Homo sapiens: one gene and its partners. The protein of the gene in region 2 interacts with the protein of the main gene of each other region in a pairwise test. Each region holds a gene or a part of one and is shown on either strand. Other genes may lie near its edges.

What was found.
Region 1: the proteins of PTPN9 (region 2) and PLIN3 interact in binary tests that used the Homo sapiens proteins (3 or more experiments, as listed by UniProt).
Region 3: the proteins of PTPN9 (region 2) and CMTM4 interact in binary tests that used the Homo sapiens proteins (3 or more experiments, as listed by UniProt).
Region 4: the proteins of PTPN9 (region 2) and SPAG4 interact in binary tests that used the Homo sapiens proteins (3 or more experiments, as listed by UniProt).

What each region holds. Positions count from the first base shown.
Region 1 is NC_000019.10:4,856,960-4,865,630, forward strand, and holds part of PLIN3 (perilipin-3), read right to left. Parts: intron 4,453-8,671; 5' UTR 4,436-4,452; coding exon 4,370-4,435; intron 3,066-4,369; coding exon 2,867-3,065; intron 2,714-2,866; coding exon 2,631-2,713; intron 1-2,630. UniProt on the Homo sapiens protein: Structural component of lipid droplets, which is required for the formation and maintenance of lipid storage droplets. Required for the transport of mannose 6-phosphate receptors (MPR) from endosomes to the trans-Golgi network.
Region 2 is NC_000015.10:75,463,487-75,472,157, forward strand, and holds part of PTPN9 (tyrosine-protein phosphatase non-receptor type 9), read right to left. Parts: intron 7,365-8,671; exon of another isoform or gene 7,345-7,364; coding exon 7,194-7,344; intron 6,514-7,193; coding exon 6,306-6,513; intron 5,498-6,305; coding exon 5,283-5,497; 3' UTR 1-5,282. UniProt on the Homo sapiens protein: Protein-tyrosine phosphatase that could participate in the transfer of hydrophobic ligands or in functions of the Golgi apparatus.
Region 3 is NC_000016.10:66,693,268-66,702,195, forward strand, and holds the start of CMTM4 (CKLF-like MARVEL transmembrane domain-containing protein 4), read right to left. Parts: upstream 3,477-8,928; 5' UTR 3,259-3,476; coding exon 3,073-3,258; intron 1-3,072. UniProt on the Homo sapiens protein: Acts as a backup for CMTM6 to regulate plasma membrane expression of PD-L1/CD274, an immune inhibitory ligand critical for immune tolerance to self and antitumor immunity. May protect PD-L1/CD274 from being polyubiquitinated and targeted for degradation.
Region 4 is NC_000020.11:35,617,851-35,622,287, reverse strand, and holds the end of SPAG4 (sperm-associated antigen 4 protein), read right to left. Parts: intron 4,202-4,437; coding exon 4,158-4,201; intron 3,839-4,157; coding exon 3,813-3,838; intron 3,677-3,812; coding exon 3,568-3,676; intron 3,366-3,567; coding exon 3,290-3,365; intron 3,094-3,289; coding exon 2,978-3,093; intron 2,710-2,977; coding exon 2,542-2,709; intron 1,605-2,541; coding exon 1,515-1,604; intron 1,413-1,514; coding exon 1,266-1,412; 3' UTR 1,194-1,265; downstream 1-1,193. UniProt on the Homo sapiens protein: Involved in spermatogenesis. Required for sperm head formation but not required to establish and maintain general polarity of the sperm head. Required for anchoring and organization of the manchette.

The DNA of each region.
Region 1 (8,671 bases), on a different chromosome or scaffold from region 2:
CCTCCCAAAGTGCTGGGAGTAAGGCGTGAGCCACCACGCCTGGTCTGTGCCTCATTTTTTCATCCCAGGCTGTTATAGGTTGAATTATGGCCCCCTCAACCCCAAATTCTTATGTTGAAGTCCTGATCCCCAGGGGTAAGAATGTGGCTGTATTTAGAGACAGGGTCTTTAAAAAGCGGTGATTAAGGGAAACTGAGGTAGGGCACAGTGGCACACTCCTATAATTCTAGCACTTTGTGGGGCTGAGGCAGGAGGATTGCTTGAGCCCAAGAGTTGGAGACCGGCCTGGGCAATATGGCGAGACTCCGTCTTGACAAAAAGTACAAAAATTAGCCAGGCGTGGTGGATGCACCTAGTCCCAGCTACTCAGGAGGCTGAGGCAGGAGGATCTGTTGAGCCCAGGAGTCTGAGAACAGCCTGGGCAACATGGTGAAAACTCGTCTCTACAAAAAATTAAAAATAGCCAGGCATGGTGGTGCATGCCTGTGGTCCCAGCTACTTGGGAAGCTGAGATGGGAGGATCACTTGAGCCCAGGAGTTCAAGGCTGCAGTTGAGCCATGATCACACTACTGCACCCCACCCTGGGTGACAGAGTGAGAACCTGTCTCAAAAAAAAAATTTTTTTTTTTAATGTTAAGAGCCAACATTTGCTACAAGCCATGTGCTGTTCTGGGCCTTCAGGTGTTAACCCCAGGTCAGCATTGCCATTCTGTAGAAAAGAAAGTGGGACCCAGGCTGGGCCTGGTGGCTCATGTCTGTAATCCCAACACTTTGGGAGGCCAAGGCAGGTGGATCACCTGAGGTCGGGAGCTCGAGACCAGCCTGACCAACATGGTAAAACCCCATCTCTACTAAAAATACAAAAATTGGCCAGGTGTGGTGGCACATGTCTGTAATCCCAGCCACTCGGGAGGCTGAGGCGGGAGAATCGCTTGAACCTGGGAGGTGGAGGTTGCAGTGAGCTGAAACTGCACCAGTGCACTCCAGCCTGGGCAACAAGAGCGAAACTCCATCTTAAAAAAAAAAAGAGGGGGCCGGGCACAGTGGCTCATGCCTGTAATCCCAGCACTTTGGGAGGCCGAGGCGGGAGGATCACGAGGTCAAGAGATTGAGACCATCCTGGCCAACTTGGTGAAACCCCGTCTCTACTAAAAATACAAAAATTAGCTAGGCGTGGTGGCAGACGTCTGCAACCCCAGCTACTCAGCAGCCTGAGGCAGGAGAATCGCTGGAACCCGGAGGTGGAGGTTGCAGTGAGCCGAGATTGCACCACTGCACACCAGCCTGGCAACAGAGCAAGACCCCGTCTCAAAAAAAAAAAAAAAAAAAAAAAAGTGAGGCCCACAGAGGCAAAGTAACTTGTGTGAGGGCCACCCAGCTGCTGAGGGGCAGGACACAGTTTGGAACATGGTGTTTTTTTTGTTTTGTTGTTTTTGAGACAGAGTCTCGCTCTGTCGCCCAGGCTGGAGTGTAGTGGCGCGATCTCAGCTCACTGCAACCTCCGTCTCCTGGGTTCAAGTGATTCTCTTGCCTCAGCCTCCCGAGTAACTAGGACTACAGGCACACGCCACCACGCCAAGCTAATTTTTTTTTTTGTAGTTTTAGTAGAGATGGGGTTTCACTGTGTTTGCCAGGATGGTCTCGATCTCCTGACCTTGTGATCCGCCCACCTCAGCCTCCCAAAGTACTGGGATTACAGGCATGAGCCACCGCGCCTGGCCAGAATATGGTGTTTTTTTGGTTTTTTTTTTTTTTTTTGAGATGGAGTTTCACTCTTGCTGCCCAGGCTAGAGTGCAATGGCATGATCTCGGATCACTGCAACCTCCGCCTCCAGGGTTCAAGAAATTCTCCTGCCTCAGCCTCCCGAGTAGCTGGGATTACAGGCACCCGCTACCACACCCAGATAAATTTTGTATTTTTAGTAGAGACGGGGTTTCTCCATGTTGGTCAGGCTGGTCTCAAACTCCCAACCTCAGGTGATCCTCCCGCCTTGGCCTCCCAAAGTGCTGGGATTACAGGCATGAGCCACCGCGCCCGGCCAGGAACATGGTGTTTTGATGTTTTGACTTTCCTGCCGCCAACCTTTTCTGACTAATAAGTTATGGAGGTGGCAACATTCTGTGTAAAGGGCCACGTAACTAAGATTTTCAGTACTGTGGGTCACAGTCTCTGTCACAACTACTCAACCTTGCCATTGTAGGGTGAAAGCAGTCATAGACAATATGTAAATAAATGGGCATGGCTGTGTGCCAATAAAACTTTATTATAAAAACAAGTGGGCTGGGCACCGTGGCTCATTCCTATAATCCCAGCACTTTGAGAGGCTGAGGCAGCTGGATCACCTGAGGTCAGGAGTTCGAGACCAGCCCGGCCAACATGGTGAAACCCCATCTCTACTAAAAATACAAAAACTAGATGGGCATGGTTGCAGGCGCCTGTAATCTGGCTGGCTTTGCAATTATTCCTCCAGCTACCCTGTGGGGAGTGGATTCGGGGTGGGGATGGGAACCGACAGGAGAGGCAGCAGGGAGGATGCCATCAAGCTTGTCTAGTTAAGCTGGGACCAGCGCACTCCACACCCAGGTAGGTCCCTGTCTCGACAGAGCCCCTGAGGACGGACATCGTTACCTTCTCCGTGGGCTGCTGCAGGATGGGGAGGTTCTCCTCCAACTTGTCCAGCCCCCTGTGGGCGTATTCGCTGGCTGATGCAACTGCCAACAACAATTAAGACGCAAATGTGACTGCTGGAAGGTCACCTAGTAATGGTTCAGGGGGACAGGACCAAGAGCTGGGTAGACCCCCCTACTCCCCACCCAGGGAAATGACCAGGAGGGGAATTCAGTGCCCCCTGGGACTTCACCCACTCTGGGGCTCCAGCTTGGAGAGGATCGGCTGAGCCCCGCTGACAGCAGCCGCCGTGAGGGTCCTCACTCCCTTCTCTGCTGCGTCGCAGACAGTCTTGATGTGCGGGTAGCTCTCCTTGGTGGAGGCATAGGCTGCGGACACCATGTCGCAGGTGGAGCTGATCAGAGGCATGCTGGCCACACGGTCCACCACACTGGGCTACAGGAGAGAAGTGGCTCAGGCAAACTGGGTGGGGGAAGATGGGGAGCTCAGCCGGAAACTCAGGGTGCCCTGCAGTTTTGCTCTTACTCCTGGCCAGTGAAACGGCTCAGTTTACCCACACTTTGCATCCAGGCAGTTGCACAAGCCAGGAACCTTGGGGTTTCGCCACGTGCTTCCTTTATTTTTATTTTATTTTTGAAACGGAGTCTTGCACTGTTGCCCGGGCTGGAGTGCACTGATGCGATCTCAGCTCACTGCAACCTCCACCTCCCAGGTTCAAACGATTCTCCTGCCTCATCCTCCTGAGTAGCTGGGATTACGGGTGCCACCACGCCCAGCTAATTTTTTTGTATTTTTAGTAGAGATGGGGTTTCACCATGTTGGCCAGGCTGGTCTTGAACTCCTGACCTCGTGATTCGCCCACCTCAGCCTCCCAAAGTGCTGGGATTACAGGCGTGAGCCACCGCACTCAGCCCACGTGCTTCCTTGAACACAGGCTATTTACATGAGCCTGCACTTTATCCCAGCGATGTGCCAGGTGGTGATAAGGGACAACAGTTCCATTCTCATGGCAGTTAGGGTCTAAACCGGGGGCTGTAGACCACAGCCCATGGGTCACAGCCAGCGCACCACTTGATTTTTAAATTTTAATTATTTTTGGGGCCAGGAGCAGTGGCTCACGCCTGTAATCCGAGCACTTTGGGAGACCGAGGCGGGTGGGTCACTTTGGGTCAGGAGTTTGAGACTAGCCTGGCCAACATGGTGAAACTCCGTCTCTACTAAAAATACAAAAATTAGCCGGGCGTGGTGGCACATGCCTGTTACCCCAGCTACTTGGGAGGCTGAGGCAGGAGAATTGCTTGAACCCAGGAGGCAGAGGTTGCAGTGAGCCAAGATGTCACCACTGCACTCCAGGCTGGGCGACACAGCAAGGTTCCATCTCAAAAATATATACATAAAATAAAATCACCTGAGGATGAGAGATCTGGAATAGAAACTGGCCTCCTAGGACGTCCCTGAGAGAGCCTTCAGAGGTGAGGATGATTTGGCTCAGGGGTTGGGGAGGGCAGGTAGTTTCAGACAGAACCCTGCTCCCTCAGGCCCTCCAAGGGCCTTTGAGATTCCCCCCTCCCAACTGGGGACACCAGTGAGTGGTCCATACCCCACTGAGGAATAAATCCCTCTGGCTCCGTGAGCTGCCGGCAGATCCCTGGCTCCCTGCCAGGGCACCCTGGGGTGGGAAGCCTCCTTGCACGGGAATCACAGGGTCGGGGCAGTCCCTGGTCCCGGCCCTTCCTCACCTGCTGTACCGGTTCTTCCACTGTCACCTGGGTGCTGCCATCAGCCTCTGCCCCGTCGGCAGACATGGTCTCTGCAGCAGACGCTGAGGAGAGAGGAACAGTCAGGTACAGCCTGCCTGGCCCCACCTTCCAGGAGAAAGTCCAGGCCCACGCTGCAGCTGGAAGACAGGGTTCACACCTGCCCATGACTTACAGCTGTGTCTTTCAGTCCTTAGCAGGCACAAGAGTGACCTCTGGACTTTGTTCAATAGCAAGTGCTGATTCTAAAGCTTCGGGATGGGGCTCACCTGGCCCCCTATTTCTTTTTTTTTTTCTTTATTTTCTTTGGAGACAGTCTCACTCTGTCGCCCAGGATGGAGTGCAGTGGGGCAACCTGGGCTCACTGCAACCTCCGCCTCCTGGTTTCAAGCAATTCTCCTGCCTTAGCCTCCCGAGTAGCTGGATTACAGGCACCCACCACCACGCCCAGCTAATTTTTGTATTTTTAGTAGAGACGGGGTTTCACCATATTGGCCTGGCTAGTCTTGAACTCCTGACCTTGTGTTCCACCCACCTTGGCCTCCCAAAGTGCTGGGATTACAGGTGTGAGCCACCACACCTGATCCTTTCTTTTTTTTTTTTCTCATTAAAGACAGGGTCTTGCTCTGTCACCCAGGCTGGAGTACAGTGGTACAATCACAGCTCACTGCAGCCTCTAACTCCTGGGCTTAAGGGATCCTCCTGCCTCAGCTTCCCAAGTAACTAGGACTATAGGCACACACCACCACGCCTACTTAATTTTTTCTTTTTGGGTAGAGATGTTATCTTTTTTTTTTTTTTTTGAGACAGAGTCTTGCTCTGTCGCCAGGCTGGAGTGCAGTGGCACGATCTCGGCTCACTGTAACCTCCACCTCCCACGTTCAAGCAATTCCCCTGCCTCAGCCTTCCCAGTAGCTGGGACTACAGGCGTGTGCCACTACACCTGGCCAATTTTTTGTATTTTTTTAGTAGAAACGGGTTTTCACCATGTTGGCCAGGATGGTCTTGATCTCCTGACCTCGTGATCCGCCCGCCTCGGCCTCCCAAAGTGCTGGGATTATAGGTGTGAGCCATTGTGCCTGGCCAATGGTATCTTGCTATGTTGCCCAGGCTGGTCTCGAATTCCTGGTCTCAAACAATCCTCTTGCCTTGGACTCCCAAAGTTCTGGGATTACAGGAGTGAGCCACCATGCCCGGCCCTGACCCTGCATTTCTAAAAGGCTCCCAGGCAGTGTTGATGCAGCTGGTCCCTGGGACACACGTCAGGAAGCAAGGCTTGGGAACAGTCCCTTCAGGGCTCACCTGTACTCCAGCAAGCCAGGTATGACCTAAAACCTCTGTAGAGGACAATTTGCCAATAGCTGTCAAGTTCCAAGAGCCATCTTCCCCTTGACCCAGAAACCTCACTTCGGGGAAGAACCCACACCTGTGTTTCCACATGAGCAGAGCTGTGTGGACTTACTGGCCACAACATGACACTGGAAACAACCTGGATGCCCAGCAAAAGGGGAATAAGAAAACAACAAGTGTGGCCAGACACAGTGGCTCACGCCTGTAATCCCAGCACTTTGGGAGGCCGAGGTGGGTGGAACACGAGGTCAGGAGTTCGAGTCCAGCCTGGCCAACATAGTGAAACCCCGTCTCTACTAAAAATACAAACATTAGCCAGGCATGATGGTGGGCGCCTGTAATCCCAGCTACTCAGGAGGCTGAGGCAGGAGAATCGCTTGAACCCAGGAGGCGGAGGTTGCAGTGAGGTGAGATCGCGCCACTGCACTCCAGCCTGGGCAACAGAGTGAGACTCCGTCTCAAAACACAAAAACAAAAATAAGTGTATCCCAATGCAGTGGCTAAAGAATGAGATTTAAAGGCCGGGTGCGGTGGCTCACGCCTGTAATCCCAGCACTTTGGGAGGCCAAGGCGGGTGGATCACCTGAGGTCAGGAGTTCGAGACCAGCCTGACCAACATGGAGAAACCCCATCTCTACTAAAAATATAAAATTAGCCAGGCATGGTGGCGAATGCCTGTAATCCCAGCTATTCAGGAGGCTGAGGCAGGAGAGTTACTTGAACCCGGGAAGCGGAAGTTGCAGTGAGCCGAGATCGCGCCGCTGCACTCCAGCCTGGGCAACAGGAGCGAAACTCTGTCTCAAAAAAAAAAAAAAAAGAGATTTAAATGTAACTCACATGGGCCAGATGTGGTGGGTCACACCTCTAATCCCAGCACTTTGGGAGGCCGAGGCAGGAGGATCACCTGAGGTCAGGAGGTGGAGACCAGCCTGGCCAACATGGCAAAACCCCGTCTCTACTAAAAATACAAAAATTAGCCAGGCGTGGTGGTGCACGCCTCCATGTTTAGTTATCCCAGCTACTCAGGAGGCTGAGGCAGGAGAATCGCTTGAACCCAGGAGGTGGAGGTTGCAGTGACCTGGTATTGCACCACTGCACTCCAGCCTGGGTGACAGAGCGAGACTCCATCTCAAAAAAAAAAAAAAGAAAACAAAACAAAACAAACAAAAGACTAAATGTAACTGACATGACATGAACAAAGATCTAGTCAAGGGATAAAATGTGTTAAATAGGGCAAACTTTCTTCTCTTTCTTGAGACGGATTTCCGCTCTGTCGCCCAGGCTGCAGTGTAGTGGTGCGATCTTGGCTCACTGCAACCTCTGTCTCCTACGCTCAAGCAATTCTCCCACCTTGACCCTGCAAGTAGCTGGGACTACAGGCACGCACCACCACACCTGGCTAGTGTGTGTGTGTGTGTGTGTGTGTGTGTGTGTGTGTGTGTGTGTGTGTGTGTGGTTTTGTTTTTTTTTTTTGGACAGGGAGTCTTGCTCTGTCATCCAGGCTGGGGTGCAGTGGCGTGATTTCGGCTCACTGTAACCTCCGCCTTCTGGGTTCAAGCGATTCTCCTGCCTCAGCCTCCTGAGTAGCTGGGATTACAGGTGTGCACCACGTCTGGCTAATTTTTTGTATTTTTAGTAGAGATGGGGTTTCACTATGTTGGTCAGGCTGGTCTTGAACACCTGACCTCGTGATCCACCCGCCTCAGCCTCCCAAAGTGCTGGGATTACAGGATGAGTCACTGCACTCAGCCGTGGTTTGTTTTTTTTTTTGTTGTTGTTGTTGTTTTGTTTGTTTGTTTTTTAGTAGATGGGGTTTTGCCATGTTGCCCAGGTTGGTCTTGAACTCCTGAGCTCAAGGGATCTGCCCACCTTGGCCTCCCAAACTGCTAGGATTACAGCTGTGAGCCACCGCACCCAGCCAAAATTTAGGCTTTTTTTAAAAAGTGAGATAACATGCCTGCCTGCACCGCAGAGCTATGAAGTCCAGGTCAGGGGTGTGGGGAGGACGGGGTTCCCCAGGTGAGTCTATGTAAGCGGGATGAAGCCACAACTCCCTTTTCCTGGACTAGTGAAATGAAGCTGGGACACCATCATCAGAAGAGATTCTCAGGGGGAAGCCAGGAGTCCCAGCTCCACCTACGCTATGCTCCCTGGAGCAAGGCGCCTTCCCCTCCTCTGGCCTCGGTCATCTTACCTGTAATATGAGGCTAAAGGGTCGGGCATGGTGGCTCACACCTGTAATCCCAGCACGCTGGGAGGCTGAGGTGGGTGGATCATGAGGTCAGGAGTTCAAGAGCAGCCTGGCCAACATACTGAAACACTGTCTCTACTAAAAATACAAAAATTAGGTGCGGGTGTGGTGGCGGGCGCCTGTAGTCCCAGCTACTTGGGAGACTGAGGCAGGGGAATTGCTTCAACCTGGGAGGCGGAGGTTGCAGTAAGCCAAGACTGCGCCACTACACTCCAGCCTGGGTGACAGAGGAAGACTCCATCTCAAAGAAAAAAGAAAAAGCCAGGCATGGTAGCTCACGCCTGTAATCCCAGCACTTTGGGAGGCTGAGGCGGGCAGATCACCTAAGGTCGGGAGTTTGAGACCAGCCTGACCAACATGGTGAAACCCCATCTCTACTAAAAATACAAAAATTAGCCGTGTATTTTGGCTGACACCTGTAGTCCCAGCTACACAGGAGGCTGAGGCAGGAGAATTGCTTGAACCTGGGAGGTGGAGGTTGCAGTGAGTCGAGATCGCACCACTGCACTCCAGCCCGGGTGACAGAGGGAGACTCCGTTTCAAAAAAAAAAAAACATGGGGCTAAAGGTCATGCCTGTCTTATGGGCTGCTTTCCTGGGGAATTCTGGTGTGAGCCTAAGAACCTGTGGCCTTGAGTCTGAGCATCTTTTCCCAGAGGAATGAGGCCCCACCTCCTGGTGGCC
Region 2 (8,671 bases):
TCCAACACCCCCAGCTAGGATTCTAGTGGAGTTAGCTATGTCCACCATGGCCTTAGCCTGAAAAATATGGGCATTTAAGACTTCAGCAGGCCACATTTAGCTCAAACAGGAGGATTTTATGACAGCCAAGGTAAAGAAGGGAGATTTAAACATTGTAACAGGTTTCAAGGTGCTAGATTTTTTTTCCCCCAAGAAAACATCTCCAAGTAAAAGTGATATATTTCTATTTGTGGAGAAGATCCTAGTCTTCTCTGTAGTCAATTATGAACAGTGCAGTCTAGAACACTTGATATTCACAAGTGTTGTGTAAAGGTAACTATAGGGCGGATACCTCCTAAGAGAAAAAGATGGTTCCCAGGCTGATGGGCATTTCCATTCCTGCCCTTGGTAGGCTCACAGTGGTTTGTGGGAGTAACCAAGGCCAGAGAGAAATCTAAGGACTAGGTTGGGAGCTATAGGACCCTTGGTCTGTTCATGCTTTGCCTCTGAGAAACCCTGTAGACCCCACATTAAGAAACAGGGAAACTTTAAAGGCCTATAGGCTGGTCTTGGAGATGACAGAGACCTGACCTGCTTTTCCTCCAATTGGAAGGCCAAGGGGGAAGAGAACTGAGGGAAGCTAGGGAAGTAGCAGCAGCTTGAAAGAAGAGACTCTGAAAACACACTAAAACTGGAGAGGCTGGGTGTGGTGGCCCATGCCTGTAATCCTCTCACTTTGGGAGGCCGAGGCAGGAGGATTGCTTGAGGCTGGAGTTCGAGACCAGCCTGGGCAACATAGTGAGATCCTGTCTCTAGAGAGAGAGAGAGAAAAAAAAAAAAAGCTGGGTTCCTGCTTGAGCCCAGTTGTTGAGACTGCAGTGAGCCATGATCATGCCACTCCCCTCTAACCTAGGCAACAGAGTGAGACTCTGTCTCTGAAAGTAAAAAAAATGAAAAGTGGGGAGTGCTAGTGGGAGCCAACTCAACCCAAGTAAAGGCCTAATAGCTCCTCTATGGGTGTTTGCACTGTCTAACAAAGAACTGGACCCTGACAGTCAGAGGACCCATGGTAGGATCATCTAGTGTAGCCCCTTCTTTTACAGAGGGAACCTAGGACTTGGGTTTGGTTCAGTGGTAAGACCTCAAAACCACAAAAGAGCTGGGTCACTCTAGAGAAGCTTTTCTACTTGGCCAATGCCTCTTGGCCCAATTCCCTCTAGGTCTCTGATTTATAAAAGTTTTTGTATGTGTGTCTGTCTGTCCCAAGAGACAGGAAGCATTCCTTTCAGGGAAGGAACCAAATTTCCCTAGGGCTATGATGCTAAATAGTCCATTCTCCCAAGAACAAGTCCTACTCTGTCATTTACCTGCATACTGTCACATGAAGACTGATAAGGGTGGGCCTCCGAGGCTGAGGATGCTGGGGCACCCTTCGTCTCAGGAGTCCCATCCTAGCCAATGAGGATGGGCAAGATGAAGGGAGCAATGGGAAAAAGGACACAGGGATTATCTCATGTTTGAAAAATTATATAGCATGGGAATGTTAGAGAAAGGTGAAACAAACAGCCATCAAATCAGAAGCAGAAGCCTGCTTTAGCTCAGTGTTTTCTTCTTTCCTGAACACTGTCTTTCTTTTTTATTTATTTATTTTTTTTGAGATGGAGTTTTACTCTTGTTGCCCAGGCTAGAGTGCAATGGCGCGATCTCGGCTCATTGCAACCTCTGCCTCCCAGATTCAAGTGATTCTCCCATTTCAGCCTCCCGAGTAGCTGGGATTACAAGCACATACCACCACACCCGGGTAATTTTTATATTTTTAGTAGAGATGGGGTTTCATCATATTGGTCAGGCTGGTCTCAAACTCCTGACCTCAGGTGATCTGCCCACCTCGGCCTTCCAAAGTACTGGGATTACAGGCATAAAGCCACTGCACTTGGACCCTGAGCATTTTCTCTTGCTTTGTTCACTAAGTCTCCTGTATGAGAACCCTGACTTGCCAAACAGATTCTGGGTTGCGTCTCTGCCTTCCCTTTCCTTTACCTCCTCCTTTAACACCTAACACAGGTAGGTTCACGCTGGTAAAAGCTACAAACAATGGCAGTGGGAGGAGTTCCTCTGAGTTTTACTGAAAATTTAGGAGACATCAATTTGTTAACTCTCTATAGGGTCAGAAACATGAACTAAATCTATGGTTCCCAAACCTGGATAATCCTGTCACTCACTAACAACCTACTGGATGGGCCCAGAAATCAGCATTTTATGGAGCTGAAGTGATAGATAACCTCACCAGTCTTCAGATATGCAATGAGGAACTCATGCATAACCTTAAATTCACAGGGCAGTCGGGTTACAGCCTCTTCAAATAAATGACAATTTAAAGTTACCTCCTCCAGGCCGTTTATCATTAATCCCATTTCTTACATGTTCCACCAAACCCCTGACCTCTCTGGTTTCTCAGATTTCCAAGAATCTCTGTTCACTTCTTATGTTTGTGCACTCCCAAGAGAATGGAGGCTCATCTGGAGAAGGAACTAGATTAATCTTCTGCTCTACACTTGAGCTCCTGATTATGGTAAGAAACTCGATAAAAATTTATTGGCAGATCAGAAGATGGATCCTTAGAGGAAGTCTAGTGTAAGAGGTGAAAGAAGATACTTTGGAGTCAGATGGTCTGGGATCCTGGCTGTAGCAAATTAACATTCCTGTCTCTCAATTTTTTTCTTCTGTCAATACCTACCTCAAAAGGTTGTTGAGGGTGAATGAGATGATACCTAGAAATTACTCTGAACAGTGCCTGGAATAGAGTGAGCATCCAGTAAATTGGCTGCTATGACTATTATTAAGAACACCCCAATATTTCCCAGCCACAACTGCCCCAACTGGGCAGGCCATCAACAGCCAACAGGTATGATATGGGGAGTGGTCTTCCATGTACAAAGCTTCTGGTTCCTTTCTTTCTAAGAGATAAATGCAAATGACTCAAGATCTTCTCACAAAGACCATGTACCCATAGATATGGAGTCTCCTGGGGAGAATGATAACCCCTTTGGTACGCTGCAGACATGAGGACCCTACATCAGGAGGTCCTAGCTAGGACAGTCAGTCACCAACCCTGTCACCCTTCGCGTCTACTACATGAAGCATGGGCACAAGAACAACAACCTGGAATTTAAGAACTTTTTTTACTCTGAAAGGAGAGCTAAACAAACCTCTGTTCTCCAAACACAAGATCTCCATCTTCCATGCAGTGAAGAGACCACAGGCTTTGTAAGCAGACCAACTTGAGCTCGTTTTAGAGCAAATCACTGTAACCCTCTGGACCTCACCTTCCTCATCTATATAGAAATGAGAAAGGGGTGCACAGGAGAAGGGAGAGAAGATAATATCTCACTGAATTGTTGTGAGGTTTGAATGAGGCAGGGTGGGGGAAAAGCACCTAGCATAGTGCTTAGCACATCTCAAGCACTGAACTGGTGCTGGTCCCTCTGTCCAGAGATAGGGCCATGGCCTACAGACAAGGTGAACTCATAGTGTCAGAACTCAAAGTCTCAGATACTGAAGGCTTGGGTCCCTCCCTGCCTCCCTCATCCCTCCCAGACCAGCTCCTGGACCCCCTCCCTCATGTCCCAGGCTGCTAAATTGATGAAGCTAAAAGGGTTTTGATCATGTCGGTATATTTATATGTAAATACAAAACTGTATCACTGTAAGATATTGAATATGAACATTACAATTATTTTCTGAATCAGACTCAGTCCATTGATATTAAATACAAAATGAAATGATTGTAAAAAATAATAATATACACATTCAAAGAGCTTATTACAGTATAAAATTATTGAGGTCTGATCAGCTGCCAACCTCATCTTCTGTCACAGGGGAAGGTTTAGGAGTTCCTGGGATTTTTTGGGAATGTGGAGTGCTGAGGACTCTTGATTTATCCCTAGCACATAAGGATGAGTGGGCTGGGAGCAGGCAGGGACAGGTTGGGTGGGTAGGGGACAAACAGTGATTGCAGGGGACCACCTCACTCAGCCAGGGGGTGAAGCTTTTTATTGACACAGAACCCACCCAGTTTGAGGGTCTAGCAGGCTAGCAGGCAGGAAGAGATGGGCATCTCGGTAGACAGGGCCAAGCTGCATAAAGGAACCATCCAGCAAAAGAAAAAGGGCCCCAGCTCATCCTCCCAGGGAGGTATTTTCTTAGTGGTTTTTTCTTTCTCATACCTGGGCTCCCCCTCCTTCCTTCTAAGATTCGTACCGATTGCATTTGGCTCTGGCTGCTCAGTGAGTTCATCTCTACCCTCCGCCTCCCATCCCTGGGATAGTGAAAGCAAAGAGAGAGTATGGAATCACAGTGGAGGTCTGTTCCCCAAATTGGCCAAGTAAATGTAGAAAAATCATCGGATAAGGGAAATCCATGCTGAGCTAACCCAGTGTCACCACAAACTAATACATTCTTGGCTCCAACAGGTGGCAACTGGAAGGAGATAAGTCATTACTTAAGGAAGGGGCCCTGTGGCAGGAACATGGAGGAGATGTGTGTGTGTCCTCTTCCACCACTCTGTAGCCTGACAAGAGGAGACATGATCACCAACCCAAGCTAGTCCAGGATAAATAGTAGGGTCCAAGAAGCAAGGAGTCCTGAACTGCAACACGGAGCCCCAGGAACTTCTGGAAAGGAGTATCGTGTGTATATGTATTTATAGAATACGATCATATTATCACATACAATATATATTATATACACACGTACATATGGACCCATACACATAAGTGCACACACACACACACACAGAATGACAGAAAGGACTGGAATACACGCCCTACTTATAAACGTGCTTGGCACTCAGGACGATCTCTAGAATATGTAACTTGGTCAAGCTCTCTGGGGAGAAAGGCAAATGCTCATCAAACCTCCCCATAAAATCCTAGGAAAGGGAAGGAGTGGGAGACAGGAGACCTCAGAAAAAGAATGGCGGGAGAAAGGAGGAGGGAGGTTCCTTCCCCACTTACCTCGGGGACCCTAGCAAAAATCAATAGCCACAATTTGGTTTTAATAAGGCACAGTTTGATAGCAGATGCTAGGAATTAAGAACACATTGCTACTGGCCCTTTCTAGTGGCAATTTCACCACATTTATCTAGCCAAAGGGAAAGGCTGCCTTGCGTGCACACGTGTGCTGGGAGACACAAGAAAGAAGTTGATCCATGGCTTCAGCGTAACTGATGGCAACCTATAGGCTCAGCGGTGTCCAGGGTAGTTTAAGGAAGGCTGGCCAACAGGTAGGAGGTTCGTAGGAGAGTTACTGACTCTCCACGGCCAGCAGGTTTTGGCCAGAGGATACCATGCCCTCCTTCTCTGCGAACTCCAGGATGGCCTTGTAGCAAAAATAGTACTGCTCAGGGGTCTGGATGCTGAAGGCCCTCTGGGTCCTCATGCGTGACACCGTCTGGAACACATTAAGGGTGCCAAGCTCCTCCAGCTGTGCCAGGCAGATGTCCAGTGAGCAGAAGGTACCTGAAGAAGGAAGGAAGTGATCACATCTGGTTTACCTCTCTTCTCTTCCTCCCTCTACCAAATAACCCAGGCAGAACTGAATGAATGACTTCACAGGCAAAGTGCCTCATGGCAGAAGGCCAGGTGGCCTTAGGCCTGAAAGGACTCAAGAAGGAGGTCACAGGGAGTGTTGGAGGCCAGAGAAATGAGAAGGCCTCTTATTTCTCAGGACATACACTTGGGGTAACAGGAAGTGGAAATGGGAAGGTGACACAGGGGAACTTCCTGCTTCAATCCCAGACAGACAGACTGACAGCACTCCCACACCTAATTTCCAGAGTCCACAAGTTTTTCAGAGGCCTAACAAAAACCTATTCTCAACTTTCTCCCAAAGGGACCTTTGAAATAGAAAGGCCAACATTTCCTACCATGTACATGCCCTTAAGGCAAAAGCTGCTAACTGGCTCCAGAATGGAGAACACAGCACAGGGTGGGGAGTCCCTCCAGGGAGGGCTGGATGGGAAGGAAGCAGCAGCCCAGCTGAGCTCTCTGGGATACCTGCAGTGACAGTTCTAACAGGTGACAGAGTCAGCGTTATGATGGGGTGTATAAAACATCAACCCCTAGAGGACTTGGCTTGTGAAATATATATTCTGGCCATCACTTGGTCCACCAAAAGGACATTAGATGAGGGATTTTTCACAGCAATTCACCACCAAGGGAGCAAGTGAGTTCCTTCTCCAATCACAGATGTGGGCTAAGAGCTTTGTTTTTCCTCGTCCACCCCTACTGCCCCTGCAGACACCAAGAGCTGCATTAGGTGCGTTACCTGTCCTGCCAATGCCTGCACTGCAATGGACCACAATGGGTGGCTCAGGGCACTGCCCTTTGGAGCGTGCTCCCATGTTGCTCACAGCCAGACTCTGCTGGTTTCTGACCACTCTCAAGAAGTCAATGAGGGAAGCTGCTGAGGAAGGGACACCATAGTCTGGCCAGCTCAAGAACTGGAAGTGGGTCACCTGGCGTTTCTGCCGTTCCTTAGATAAGAAAAGAAGTAAACGTTAACAAGGTTATTTCTGCCTGCCCCTAGCTACCTCTGGCTTTTCCAGATTCTCAACACCCTGGTTATCCCTACCACCAAGGCTCCTATCCACCACTGTCAACTTTTCCCATAATTGCTTCTTTACTACAAACCCAAAGGAAGGGTTGGTTAATTGGAAAAGGCAGAATTCCTATACTGTAAGATCCAGAATTTTTTTTGAGACAGGATCTCACTCTGTTGCCCAGGTTGGAGTGCAGTGGCACGATCAAACTTACTGCTGCCTTGACCTCACAGGCTTGTGCCACCATGCCCAGCTAATTTGTTCTATGTTTTGTAGAGACAGGATCTCACTGTGTTGCCTAGATTATCTTGAACTCCTGGGCTCAAGTGATCCTTCCACCTCTGCCTCCCAGAGTGCTGGGATTATAGGCCTAAGCCATTGCACCCAGCCCCAGATTTCTAAAATTATAAGCTTTACTCCTATTTAATGTTCCTATCGTGCTGCAGTAATATGGCTATATTGGCTGTGAGTTAAATATCCTCATCCTGTCCCTAGAAAAACAGAAGCAACTCATAACTTCCCTGGTATCCTACCTATTCCCTCTGGAGATTTTCATTACAGTAATTATTCTCCCCCTGTTTCAACAAGGTGAGAAAAAAGAAACCTGGATTTACCTCTGTGTTGTGAATTTCTAGCGTTGTTTTCTTATAATGATTCATGTTCTCCACGCCTAGATTGGTCACTGTGAGGAAGCCAAATCGGATCCGAGAGTCTTTTTCTAAAGGCCAGTACTGGCCACACTTTCTCCTGCCGCCTTCCTCAAAGCTGAAGACACACAGAGCAAGGTAAGCCTTCCATCGTTCCTCTCCACAGCAGTAACCTGGCTTCCCCAAAGACCTGATATACCCCCAGGCAGCAATATCATCTCTTGCATTGCTTCTAACTTACACCATTGATTCTCAGCAGAAAGGAAAGGAAACCTCTTCATTCTAAACAAATGTACTCACAGCTAAAGTTTCTGCATGTACTCATATAGCAGACAGTTACTGAGCACTTACTACAGCATTTGGTCTTTTTCCTAATACGCAATAGTACGTCTCACATATGTGGGATAAATACTGGGTGAACAGAGACAAAAACAGTATAGTAGCTGGGTATAGTGGTGCATGCCTGTAATCCCAGCTACTTGGGAGGTTTAGGCAGGAGAATCACCTAAGACCAGGAGTTTGAGACCAGCCTGGGTAACATCATGAGACTCCATCTCAAAAAAGAAAAAGAAAAAGAAAAAAAAAGAGTAGAGAAAATATGAAAATATGATAGGTCAGAGAGAACTCTCTGATAAACTGATAAACACACATCTACTGGTATGTTAGCAGGAGGTTTGTGTAAAAGCCTGAAGTCCCAGCCCAGGCAACATGGAAACCCTATCTCTACTAAAAATACAAAAATTAGTCAGGCATGGTGGTGGGTACCTGTAGTCCCAGCTACTTAGGAGGCTGAGGTAGGAGGATTGCTTGAATCCAGGAGGTTGAGACTGCAGTGAGCTGAGATGGCACCACTGCACTCCAGCCTGGATGACAAAGTGAGACTCTGTCTCAAAAAAGAAAAAAAAAAAAAAAAAAGGCCTAGGCCAGGCGCAGTGACTCATGCCTGTAATTCCAGCACTTTAGGAGGCCAAGGTGGCGGATCACCTGAGGTCAGGAGTTCGAGACTAGCCTGGCCAACACGGTGAAACCCCATCTCTACTAAAAATACAAAAATTAGCCAGGCATGGTGGTGGGCACCTGTAATCCCAGCTACTTGGGAGGCTGAGGCAGAATAGCTTCAACCTGGGAGGCGGAGGTTGCAGTGAGCTGAGATCGCACCACTTAAGGTTGCAGTGAGCTGAGATCGCACCACTTAACTCCAGCCTGCACAATAGAGTGAGACTCTTGTCTCAAAAAAAAAAGGCCTAAATCTACCTTGCCACCCTCCAGTGGCCCCAAAGTATTCCAAGGTAGAACTTCTCCCACTACCTCCTCTCCAAATAAGTGGTGGTTATAACAGTGCTAAGGAAGGGAATTTAACATTCACATTCATTTTTTTCCTTCCTCATCTGAAATAGGTTATTCCTTAAATTTGCCAGATTTGTAGACCAAAATTTCAAAAATAT
Region 3 (8,928 bases), on a different chromosome or scaffold from region 2:
ATGGGATCTTGCTACGTTGCCCAAGCTGGAGCACAGTGGCTACTCCGAGGCACCATAATAGCTCCCTGTGACCTTGAACTCCTAGGCTCAAGCAGTCCCCCCACCTCAGCTTCCTGATTTTTAAAAGTCAAATTTTTCTCCAAACCGCAGAGTTAGAACTTACTCATATTTCTTGATGGATTCTGAGTTTTGTAACATCTCAGAAGTATCTTCATAATGACTTCTTATTTTCTTTTCAGTTTAAATTTAGAGTCCAATTTCTTGGAGTTTTGTGGGATTTTCATCAAGGCTGGGAAGCCAACTACACCAAAACCATTTGAAGTTGCCATACCCTTCAAGCAGGTCCCTTTCCTTTACTCACCCACATATAACCTCTCAGAGTTTAAGTTCTAGAGATTAACAAACAACAGAGTTAGGCGAGATTCTGGGGGCTAGGCCCAAAAGTTCTTCCGGATGAAAAGTACAAATCTAGGCCAGGCGTGGTGGCTCACGTCTGTAATCCAGGCACATTGGGAGGCCGAGGCGGGCAGATGACCTGAGCTCAGGAGTTCGAGACCAGCCTGGGCAACATAGTGAAACCCCGTCTCTACCAAAAATACAAAAAATTAGCTGGGCATGGTGGTGTGCGTCTGTGGTCCCAGCTACTTGGGAGGCTGAGGTGGGTGGGTCTCTTGAGCCCAGGTGGCGGAGGTTGCAGTGAGCCAAGATTGTGCCACTGCACTCCAGCCTGGGTAACAGAGTTAGACCCAGTGTTTAAAAAAGAAAGAAAAAGAAAGAGTGAGAAGAAAGAGAGAGGGAGAGAGCGCGAGGGAGAGAAAGAGAAAAGAGAAAAGAAAAGAAAAAAAGAAAAGAACAACGCTACAACAAAACAGTACCTTACCAAAAAGTAATGATAAATGCCACAGGCTTCCATCCCTGGACTTAGGTGATAAACTCCTAGCAATGCAGTAATAACTAACAGTCTACAAACTAGATTTCAATTCTTTTACTAGATCCTTTTAGGGACAAGTTCTATTTACTTTCAAACTCCCACAGTGCAAACAAAGCAAGGTATTTGACCAAGCCCTGCTCTTTTCTTATTCATTTCTAATTATCTGTACGGGCTGCTGGCACCCCATACTCAAACATTGGCTAGCTGCCTCTTTTAAAAGGCAATTGCAGGCAGGGTGTGGTGGCTCACGCTTGTAATCCCAGCACTTTGGGAGGCCGAGGTGGGCGGATCATAAGGTAAGGAGTTCGAGACCAGCCTGGCCAGGCCAACACAGCAAAACCCCGTCTCTACTAAAATTACAAAAATTAGCTGGGCGTGGTGGTGGGCGCCTGTAATCCCAGCTACTCGGGAGGCTGAGGCAGGAGAATCGCTTGAACCCGGGAGGCAGAGGTGGCAGTGAGCCAAGATTGTGTCACTGCACTCCAGCCTGGGCGACAGAGCTAGACTCCATCTCAAAAAAAAAAAAAAAAAAAAAAGGCAATTGCACACCTCCCTTCACCTCCTACATTCTCTTTGCTAACAGCAACGCCAAACTAAAAACCAATGCATCTTTGAAAACATTCCAGTTTACCAGATAAGGTAAATTTAAAATTCTGAAGACAGATTATCTGATCCATTTTTCTTTCCATAAAGCCCTTCAAAAATACCCTCTGGCAGTCAGCAGAACAAGCCTTTCACCCAAGAGAGACATAAAATAGCCTATGATTCTGTCATTTACAAACGCCAGGACATTTATTTAAAGGGTATCCACACATTATATTATTCCCAAGGAATGCTTATGCACTCAAGTAGGAAAAGGAGGACCAGGCCTGGCACGGTGGCTCATGCCTGTAATCCCAGCACTTTGGGAAACCAAGGAGGGGTGATCGCTTGAGCCCAGTAGTTGGAGACCAGTCTGGGCAACATGGTGAAACCCCATCTCTACTAAAAATACAAAAATTAACCCGGCATGGTGGAACGTGCTTGTAGTCCCAGCTACTCGGGAAGCTGAGGTGAGAAGATCGCTTGAGCCTGGGAGGTCGAACCTGCAGTGAGCCACGATCGCACCAGTGCACTCCACCCTGGGCGACAGAGACCCGGTCTCAAAAAAGAGAGAGAGAGAGAACAAGAACAAGTGGCTTCTCTGGCTATGAGAAGTCTATAAAGTTTTGAGGCCGGTGGCCTCAGAAGGCCTACCTGTGACAGAGAATGTTGGGGGGACACACGGGTTTTTCTGAATTAGAGCATGCCCACAACAGAGCTAAGCAATTGCCCGCAGAGGCATGTTACAAAACCACAAAGCAGGAACAGAGCTGAGAGGCCCCTGCCCAGAACACCCTGGAAGCTAAAACACAGGACCCTGAGAAATGAGCTCTACTACAGACAAGTCCAACAGAAAGTTCTCTGTTTCTGCTACCTCCAAAACTGGCTGCCCTCCCAGATTTAACTCTGGGTACCAATTGGGCAGTGCCAGCCACCGTGCTGGGCGGTGGATTCCGGGATGCCAAGTCTGTCTTCTTGGTTAGAAGGACACAAACCTCTGCAGTGTAGAGAATTGTGGGCATATCTGGGCTCCTCCACTGCATCAGGGCTACCTGCCTCCATCCAGCAAATACTTACTAAGCGCCTACCATATACGCCTGGCACCCAGCTAGACATCAAGTGGGAACCAAACCACAGTCCCTCGTCTCCGCAGGCAGAAACAGGCACCGTCCGGAGGTTGCGCGGGCCGGGAAAACCTGCCACAGGTTGCTAAGACCAGCTGTACCCAGGAGACAGCAGGATTCCCAGCAGCACCCAGCCCAGTAACGCCACAGACTCCCGGGAGCGAGGGCGGAGCGGACAGGTAGGCCCGAAGGCAGGTGCTCAGGTAGGAGGCGCACACCTGAGGCTGCCGGCCTGGGAAGGGCAGGCTCTGGCCGAAGGCGGGGTCCCCAGAGAAGGCTGCAGAGTGGTCCCGGGACCCCACGAGGGAGAGGGGGCGCGAGGAGCGGGCTCCGGCCTGGGCAAGCGGGTACGCGGCGGAGGCCCCGCAGCGGGGCGGGGAGGGAGGCGTGCGGCTAGGCCGCCCTCGGGCACCTGGGGCCCCGCCCGGCACCTACCACTTGGGCGACCTTGAGGCGGCCGAGCGCGCCGCGCAGGTAGTCGGGGTCGCAGCGCAGGCCGGCCAGCCCGCGGCGCTGGCTCACCGGCTCGGTGGTGGGCTGGTACGGGCTGCTGGCGCCCGAGATCATGGAGGTGCTCGAGGCCTCGCCCTCGAAGCCGTCCAGCTCCTCGCCGCTCCGCATGCTGCCGCCCGGCCCGGGCCGCCTCGCGCGGCTGGCTCCCGGCGCCAGGAGCGGGCGGACTCAGCGGGGCCGCCGCATCGCCGCCGCCGCCGCCGCCGCCGCCGCCCGACTGACTGCCCGCGGCCCGCCCGCCGCCGCCGCCTCTCGCCCGCCGCCCGGCTGCGGCTGCGGCTCGGTCCGCTCGGGCTCGGCTCCCGCCGCCTCGGCAGCGGAAAGGGAGGGAGGTGGGAGCCAGGAGAGGGAAGGAGGCGGGAGCGGGCGCGCCGGGCCGGGAGAGGCGGAGCCAGGCCGCAGCCGGCCGCTCGGAGGCGCTCCGCGGCTCGAGCGAGGTGGAGGCGGCGGCGCCGCGGGCCTCGGGGAGGGGCGGGGCGAGGCGGGGCGCCGGCTCCTCAGGCCCCGCCCTGGCCCCGCCCCCACCTGCGCCTAGAGCCGGGGCGGGAGCCGCTGGTGGGCGCTGGCGATCCCGGCACGCGGGGCGATGGGGTTCAGGCAGCGGGGTCTTGGGGCTGAGGAAAGGGTCGAGGTGGACCTGGAGGCCATGGAGTTGCTTTCCCAGACGCTGCCTCAGGTTCTCCTTTGAAGAAAGTGGGGTCCTCGACGCATAGGGTGGGGAGCTTCTCGGTAAAGACAGAGACGGGCTGCGCCACCCGGGTGCCGGGAACGGTGCGTGGCCAGGGTGGGCTTGACTCAGACTATTGGGCCGACGAGAGGTGGGTAAGTGCCTGTGTTCTCACGCTGGGCGCCTGGAACAAACCGGTTCCGAGGCCAGGGGCGGGCGGGGCAGGGTGAGGAGCCGCCCCACTGCAGGTTGTCCCCGCCGGCCTGACCCAGGCGACTGACATGTTCCTCTCCTCTCAGCTGAAAAGCTTTGCTAGCTCTGTCTACGCATAAAGTAAGGTTAAACACAGATTTTGCCCCGAAGGGCATTAATTAGGGACCAATTTACAATTCAAGTGTGAAGGCTAATTTTAAGCTAAGTAAAACACTGACTAAGAAGTGTCGCTTTGATATTGAACCCTTCCACAACCACAAATACCGAGAGCTTGCCATGTTCTAGGCACTGAGCAAGGCGCTTGAAGAACGTATCGTTGTTATTTCTATTTTACAGAAGAAGAGACTAAGGCTGCAGACTGGAAGTAGCTTGTCCAAGGTCACACAGTTCATTGGTGGGCAGAGCCCAGGTTCCTACTTTTTCTTTTTTTAAAAAAAAGTTATTTATTATTTTCATCATCATTATTTTTGTAGAGATAGGGCCTCACTGTGTTGCCCAGGCTGATCTCGAACTCCCGGGCTCAGGGGATCCTCCTGCCTCAGCCTCCCAAATTGCTGGGATTACAGGTGTGACTGACCATGCCCAGCCCTCAACTTTTTCAAAGATAGGAAGGACAGTGACTCTAATACTGTTGTCCTTCTGTATGGGGGCAAGAGAGGGAGCTTGTTTTCAGGACCCCCTCAAATACCAAAATCTGAAGATGCTCTCAAATCCTTTATATAAAATGGTGTAGTATTTACATATAACCTACACACATCTTCTCGTATACTTTAAATAATTGTTCTACTGTATTACTTTTTATCTATATTTTTGTGTGTGCGTGTGTGTGTTGTTTGGGGGTTTTTTGTGTGTGTGTTTTCTGAGACAGAGTCTTGCTCATCACCCAGGCTGGAGCGCTGTGGTGAGATCTCTGCTTACAGCAACCTCCACCTCAAGCGATTCTCCCACCTCAGCCTCCCGAGCAGCTGGGACCACCACGCCCAGCTAATTTTGGCATTTTTAGTAGAGACAGGGTTTCACCATGTTGGCCAGGCAGATCTCAAACTACTGGCCTCAAGTGATCTACCCACCTCAGCCTCCCAAAGGGCTGGGATTACAGATGTGAGCCACCGTGCCCCACCTGTTTTTCTGTTTTGTTTTGTTTTGTTTGTTTTTAAAATAGACTTTTCACTCTGTCATCCAGGCTGGAGTACAGTGGTACAATCATAGCTCACTGTAACCTCGACCCCCTAGACTTAAGCAATCCTCCTGTCTCAGCCTTCTAAGTAACTGGGACTACAGGCATGCCACCACCATGCCTGGCTAAATTGTTTTTTCTTTCTTTTTTTTTGGAGATGGGGTCTCATTATGTTGCCCAGGCTGGTCTCAAACTTCTGGTCTCAGCAGTCCTCCCACTTCAGCCTCCCAAAGTGCTGGGATTACAGGCATGAGCCACCACATCCAGCTTATTTTTTATTGTTTTTTCCAAATAATTTTTTTTTTTGAGACGGAGTCTCATTCTGTCACCCAGTGGCATGATTGCTGCGCACTACAACCTCCACCTCCCAGGTTCAAGCAATTATTCATGCTTCAGCCTCCTGTGTAGCTGGGATTACAGGTACCGACTAACACGCCTGGCTAATTTTTGTGATTTTAGTAGAGACGGGGTTTTGCCATGTTGGCCAGGCTGGTCTTGAATTCCTGACCTCGAGTGATCTGCCCACCTTGGCCTCCCAAAGTGCTGTGATTACAGGCATAAGCCACTGTGCCCAGCCTATTTTATTCCAAATTTTTTTTTATCAGCAGTTGGTTGAATCCATAGCTGCAGAAACCACAGATATAGAGGACTGACCCTAAATCAACAAATATTTATTGGGCACTTACTATGGATTAAGCAATATACTAAGAACTTGAGATAGACAATGGTGCTAGACGGTGGTGACATTGAGTGGTTGGATGTAGACTCTTGCCTCTGCTTTCTCCCAAAATCCCAGTGAAATGACAGTTACAGGGATTTTTTTGAGGGGGTGGGGTTGGGCATTAAACTGTTGGGATAAAGAATGGCAAAGGAGGCAGGGCACCATGGTGCATGCCTGTAATCCTAGCACTTTGGGAGGCTGAGGTGGCAGTTCACTTGAGGTCAAGAGTTCAAAACCAGCCTGGCCAACATGTTGAAACCTTGTCTCTACTAAAAATAAAAAAAAAAAAAAAAAAAAAAAAATTAGCCATACATGGTGGCGAGCGCCTGTAATCCCAGCTACTCGGGAGGCTGAGGCAGGAGAATCACTTGAACCTGGGAGGTGGAGGTTGCAGTGAGCTGAGATCACCCCACTGTACTCCAGCCTGGGCTACCAAAAAAAAAAAAAATGGAATGGGAAAGGAGACAATGGCAACAAAATGTTGGAAGCTGGGAAGCAAATGGGCAACTGTAACTTAGCAGATCCAAGAAAGCCAAACCCTAAACTGGCAGGGGAAAGGCTGAAATATTATGCAGCACAGGTTATATCACAGAACAAAAGGCTCAGGAATGGGCAGCACCAAGTAAGTGTAGAGTTAGGGGGTGAAGGCAGGAGTAATAAACAAGAAGAGCAAGTGAAAGTCTTTTAAAGAAGCAAGTGGATCCCTAGATCCCTTTTCACACCCATCCCCCAAGACTGGAGCTTTGTTCTCTGGAGAGGGTGAAACAGAAGGCCTCTTAGTTAGAGATCACTAGGCACAGTTCAGGGAAGGAATACTGTACTAAAAACAGGTGGAGTAAGTGAAAGTTTGCTTAATGAATGAGACCCCCAGACATCCTTCCCGAGATCATGGTAGCCAAGACCTCACATTCTCTCTGGAAAACATGATTAGCACAAGAAGAAAGACCCAAAGATCCTGACAATGGAAGTACCCCAAAGTGGAGCCCAGCCAGATCACCCAACACAGAATCCCACAGTTGAGACTTCTCACCTACAGGCACAGAGCTTCCAATGAGCTTTTGAGGACTCTACTTTGAAATATAAATGACAACTAAGAGTCACCAAACATTTGAGGAAAGCCTATAACATAACAGAGGTCAAAACGAAGAAAAAGATATGTCATTAAATGTTTACAATGGTATATATATGTGTGTTCATATATATACCATTTTATACACATGTATATATCAGTATTCTCAGGTAAACTGAGAAGATACTGTAACCATAAAAAGTTTAGAATAAGGCTGGGCATGGTGGCACATGCCTGTAATCCCAGCACTTTGGGAAGCCGAGGTGGGTGGATCATTTACAGTCAGGAGTTCGAGACCAGCCTGGCCAACATGGTGAAACTCCATCTGTACTAAAAAAACAAAAATTAGCCCAGAGTGGTGGTGCATGTCTGTAGTCCCAGCTACTCAGGAGGCTGAGGCAGGAGAATCGCTTAAGCCCGGGAGGCAGAGGTGGCAGTGAGCCAAGATTGTGCCACTGCACTCCAGCCTGAGTGACAGAGCAAGACTCTGTCTCAAAAAAAAAAAAAAAAAAGTTTAGAATAAGGCTGAGTGAGGTGGCTCACGCCTGTAATCCCAGCGTTTTGGGAGGCTGAGGTGGGCAGATGGCTTGAGCCCAGGAGTTCGAGACCAGCCTGAGCAACATAGCAAGACCCCATCTCTATTAAAAAAAAAAAAAAAAAAAAAGTTTAGAATAAGATGTTACCAAAAAGGAATATTCAGAGAAAAAAAAAAACCTCTTAGACAAGCACATGAAAATATGCTCAATGTTATTAGTTGAAGGAAATTAGGGAAATGCAAATCAAAACCACTTCATAACTGCCAGGATAGCTATAATAAGAACAACAGGAAATTACAAGTGTTGGTGAGGATGTGGAGAAACTGGAACCCTCATACATTGATGGTAAGAATGTAAATGGTGTAACTGCTGGGTTGAAAGTTTGGCAGTTCTTCAAACAGTTACATAGAATTACTATATGACCCAGTAATTCCACTCCTGCGTATATACCCAAAAGAACTGATAATGGGTGGCCAGGCACAGTGGCTCATGCCTGTTATCCCAGCACTTTGGGCGGCCAAGGCAGGTAGATTGCTTAAGTCCAGGAATTCAAGACCAGCCTGGGCAATATGGCAAGACCCCATCTCTACAAAAAATACAAAAAACTAGCTGGGTGTGGTGACACATGCCTGTAGTTCCAGCTGCTTGGGAGGCTCAGGTGGGAGGATTGCTTGAACCTGGGAGAGGAAGGTTGCAGTGAGCTGAGATTGTACCACCGCACTCCAACCTGGGTGACAGAGTGATACCCTTTCTCAAAAACAGAAAAAAGAAAAAAAGAAAATAAAAGAAAGAAAAAAATTGATAATAGGTGCTGAAACAAAAACTTGTATGAGACATGCCAGACTCCATGATACAGGCCTGTAGTCCTAGCTACTCAGAAGCCTGAGGCAGGAAGAACACTTGAGCCCAGGAATTCAAGGCTGTAGTTTGCTATGATTGCACCTATGAGTAACTACAAACTCCAGCCTGGTAACACAGCAAGACACCATCTAAACAAACAAACAAACGAAACCTTATTTTTATGCCCTTATATAAAAAGAAACACAAAAAAACCTTCTTCATGAAGGTTTGTAGCAGCACTGTCCACAGTAGCCAAAAAGTAAGCACAAGCCAAGTGTCCTCCATTACCCCATGAAACAGGAGTTCGAGACCAGCCTGGCCAACATGGTGAAAACCCATCTCTACTAAAAATACAAAAATTAGCCAAGCATGGTGATGGGCGCCTGTAATCCCAGCTACTCGGGAGGCTGGGCAGGAGAAAAGCTTGAACCAGGGAGGCTGAGGTTGCAGTGAGCCGAGATCATGCCACGGCACTCCAGCCTAGGCAACAGAGTGAGACTCTGTCTCCAAAAAAAAGAAAAAAAGAATGTGTTTGAGGGCCAGGCATGTTGCTCA
Region 4 (4,437 bases), on a different chromosome or scaffold from region 2:
AACGCCCAGCTAATTTTTGTATCCATGTTGGCCAGGATGGTCTTGATCTCCTGACCTCATGATCCACCCTCCTCAGCCTCCCAAAGTGCTGGGACTACAGGCATGAGACACCATACCAGGCCGAATTTCACTTCTTAAAAGTATAAACACTATTAATAGTCTGTATATTCTTCTAAAGCATGAGCACATTGGGAAGGTGTTAATGCCTACATCTTATTTTTTTGTAGGAGCGTACCCGTCTCTTATTCATGGAGATTTGAATCCCAGTTTTTTTCAAACAATGCTATAATGAACATCTTTGTACATGTATCTTTGTGCACTTAACAGGAATGTTTCTGAAGAATTTGTTCCTAAAAGTGGAAGTGCTAGATCAAAGGGTATATTTAAAATTTTACCAGATACTGCACATTGCCCTCCAAGATGGTGCATGTTGTGCGTGTTGCTTTGCTCATGCTGGTCCTCCTTTCCTACCCCTAGGTAGAACTCATTAATCCTTTGTTGCCTTCTCCTCCATCTTTTTTCCCTGCAATTCCACTTTCGACCCTTAGAGTGAAGAATTCTTGGATCTGTAAATGCATTGTCCTGTTTCCTGGAGTCTCTTCTTTCCCCTGTCAGGCTCCTTGAGGGCAGGGACTGGTGAACACTAAATCATCTATGCTGTGCCTCACACAGAGTTGGGAACTCAGGTCTCAGTAAGACAACCTATGTAGGGGCTACCAGGCCTGCATCAGCTCTGTGACTCAGAAGCTTCCTAGAGGTTATCAAGTCTCCTTAGCTTTTGAGTGTGTGCCTGCAGAAGGTGGGTAGCTACCCCTCCACCGGTACCTAGCAGGAGTTGGGGACTTTCCCACTGGGGCTGGGAATTGAGCACAAAGGTGGGTTCAGGCTGCCTGCAGCTCTGCAGTTAGAGGACTGGCTCTGGAGGAAGGTGGGCCTGGGTACTGCTCTGTCACTGCCTTTCACTAGCTGTGTGACATTGAACAAGTTTCCTGACCTGAGCAGCTTCCCTTTCTGGTTGTGAGAATGAAGTTAGGTAATGTGTGTAATGTCCACAGCACTGTTTCTTGTACGTGGTAGGCACTCCATAAACAGGAGCTGCTATTACGATCTTGATCAAGACTTCTCCAAGAAAAGAGGGTGCATTGGGAAGTCAGCCCCTCCATACTTAGATGCAACGGCAGCCAGAGCTCTCCCAACAGAGCCCCCGAAAGCACTGATCCAGTATCCTTCAGCAGAACTCAATTCTACTCCAAAAATCAGCATGTTTAATGGGGCCCCTGTGCACTGCCCTCTGCCCCCTCTGAGGTTCGCACACCGTGGGCACGGACTCGATACAAGCACGTGAAACGGGGGTGGCCCCAGTTGCTTAGAATCTGGATCTTCACCTTGGGAAAGGCAGCTGGGGGGTCATTCTGGGGAGACAAATGGATCATGCCAAGGGCTGCCCTCCTCCTGGATCATTCATCCCTCACTGCCCCACTCCCTTGGCACCTTCACCCTAGAGACAAACACACCTGCAGGTGGAAAGTCTGAATCTCCGATTTCTCAACATCGAAGGTGAATTTCCCCAAGGAAACTTCAGTTTCATCATAAACCTGGAGGCCCTGGTGGGTGAAGAATGAAAGGAGGAACTATGAGGGGGACAGGTGGGGCGGGGGGGGCGGGGAGAAGAAAACTTTGCTGAGGATCTTCTGTGTATTCAATAGCTATATGCATGTTCTCATGTATTTTTTGATGGTCGTACACTGTAATTCAGAATGTGGGCTCTAAGAAACCAGGTTTTATTTATTTATTTATTTTGAGACGGAGTGTTGCTCTGTCACCCAGGCTGGAGTGCAGTGGTGAGATCTTGGCTCACTGCAAGCTCCACCTCCCGGGAAGAAACCAGGTTTTAAATTTAATCCTGCCAACTGTTAGTTGTATTACCTTGGAAAAATAACTTCCCCTCTCTGAGCATTACTTTCTTCATCTTTAAAGGGGGAGATAACAGTACATCATAGGTTGTTATGTGGGTGCAAAGCAGGCACGGTGGCTCATGCCTGTAATCCTAGCATTTCAGAAGGCCGAGGAAGGCGGATCACTTGAGGTCAGGAGTTTGAGACCATCCTGGCCAACATGGTGAAACCCCATCTCTACTAAAAATACAAAAATTAGCCGAGCATGGTGGCGCACGCCTGTAATTCCAGCTACTCGGGAGGATGAGGCACAAGAATCGCTTGAATCCTAGAGGCTGAGGTTGCAGGTGAGCTGAGATGGCACCACTGCACTCCAGCAGCCTGGGTGACAAGAGCGAGACTGTCTCAAAAACAACAGCAAAATAAGAATGCCTGTAAACTGCTTGGCACGGAGTAAGTGCTTTGCAAGCAATAACTAATATCTGGATATGGTTATGACTATAACCTACAGCAGCTCTGAGAGGCAAATAGTAGTATCTTCATTTTATAGATGAGCAAGCGAAGACTCAGATAACGGCACCAGTTCTCAAGACTGCTTGGGCTCTCTAGGCAAAATCCCCCACCTCCTGACCTCGTCCGCACTCACAAAGACCGCGAAATCGCGGGGGGCGCTGTTGGCTCCTCCGGTGTGCTCCACGCTGGGCGGTGGATGCTGCAGAGTGATGTCGCTCAGCTGCACTCGGCCCGGCAGTTGGATCACCACCTGGCCTTGGTCGCCTTCAAAAGCCCAGCAATTCCCAGGGAACACGTGGGGCTGCAGGCGGGCGGAGGGACCATCGGAACCGTCGGACAGAGCGACTGCTGCCGCTCCCCAGCCCGGGCCTCAGCTCGACCCCATCCATCGACCCGCCCAGAGCTCCACCTCCAGCCCGCCCCAGTCCCCAGCAATGCCAGGTCTCTCCTTGAGTTAAACGCCATCCTCCACGCCCTCGGCTCAGCCAAGCTCCGCCTGTAGGGCGGGGTTTTGGTGCTTTTCCCAGCGTCCCGCCCGGGGTCCCATCCCGGGATGTTTCCAGACTCACCTCCAGGATAACCGTGGGCGGCCGTGCGTAGTTCCAGAAGCTGAAGCGATTCCAGAAGTAGGCAGTGTTCCTGTCTGCGTAATCGTGGGATGTCTTCTGCAGGTCGATGGAGGCTCCTGGAACAGTGAGAAGTAACCCTCAGAGGCTCCCAGGCCTTGCCGGGAGTCGGGGCGCGGGGGCGCGGGGGCTGGGGGCGGGTGGGGGCTGTCCGAGGCTCTGTCTTCGGCCGGTCAGGTGCATGGGTCTGTCTGTGTCAGTGTCTTGGCCTCTTTCCTGTCTGCGTCTCTGTCTTCCAGTGTCTCCGGGTCTTACCCACAGAGCTCAAAGCATAGTCGGGCTTCCGCACAAAATCCTCATTCAGCCTCTGGAACACGAGCTTGGCCACTCTCTGCAAGGAGGGAGGGCGAGGCCTGGAGGGGCGAGGCTTGCGGGCTGCTTTTACAGGTGGACGGGACCTCTGGGAGCTGGTTGCTTTGGGATGGACTTCGTGGGCACCGGGAGAAATCCCGCAGGGCTCTGGGCGGAGCTTAAGTCTCAGGACCCTGGGAGCAGGGATCCATCAGGGGTTTCCAAGGTGGGCCGGGGCTCACCTCGCTGTTGGCTGCCCGAACAGTGGACACCTCCTTGTGGAGTTTATCCAGCTCGGCCTGGAGCTGCTGCAGCTGCTGCCCCTGGGAGCGCACGCGCTCGTGGTACTCACTGGAGGTGGGAGGTGGGCGCCGTGGGGTTGGCTCCCTGTCCCCCTGGACACCTCCCAAAGGCCCCCACGCCTTCAAGGTTCTCAAAGAAGCAACTTTGAGCCCCCCAATTTCCCACCCTAGGTGCCCTCTTTCACCTTAGAGTCAGCATCTCCTTAGGTTCCTGTTGGATGAAGGGACAAAACACAGAGCCGCTCAGCTCCCGTCGTCCTTGCTCCTACCTCAGCCTGGAAACGGCCAGGGCTTCCTTTTTGAAGACTGTGTCCCCTTTCCTCGACTCCTCCTTGACCTCCCAGTATCAGAGCCCCCAAGAGACCCTCAAGCACAATCCCTCATAAGTCTGTTTATATCCAGCCCTTTCTTAAGGATTGTAGCCTCTGGCACTACCCCCACCCCAGCAGACCGACAGTCCAGGGGACCCCCACAATCTCCGGGTTCACAACCTGCCAACCCCCTACCCCAAGACAGTCTCCCCAACTCACATTCTCCAAAGGAGAGACCAGGTACAGAAGCCCCAGCCAGAATGCTGGAGAAAGAGAGGGAGGGGTCTCAGAAGGAAAAGGAAGAGAATGGGTTTCCCCGGCATAGGGGGACAGTGGAAAGAGGCTTGAGGGGGTTAAGCCTGGGGAGGACCGTGGGAGTCTGAGGGGGAATTAGGGGGTTCTGCAGGGGAATGCCAGGAGCTGCAGGACCGAGGATGTAGGAGAAAATGTGCTGGGTTTGCCTCCAAAGCACCCAGGGCAGGGGCTCCAGGGAATTCAC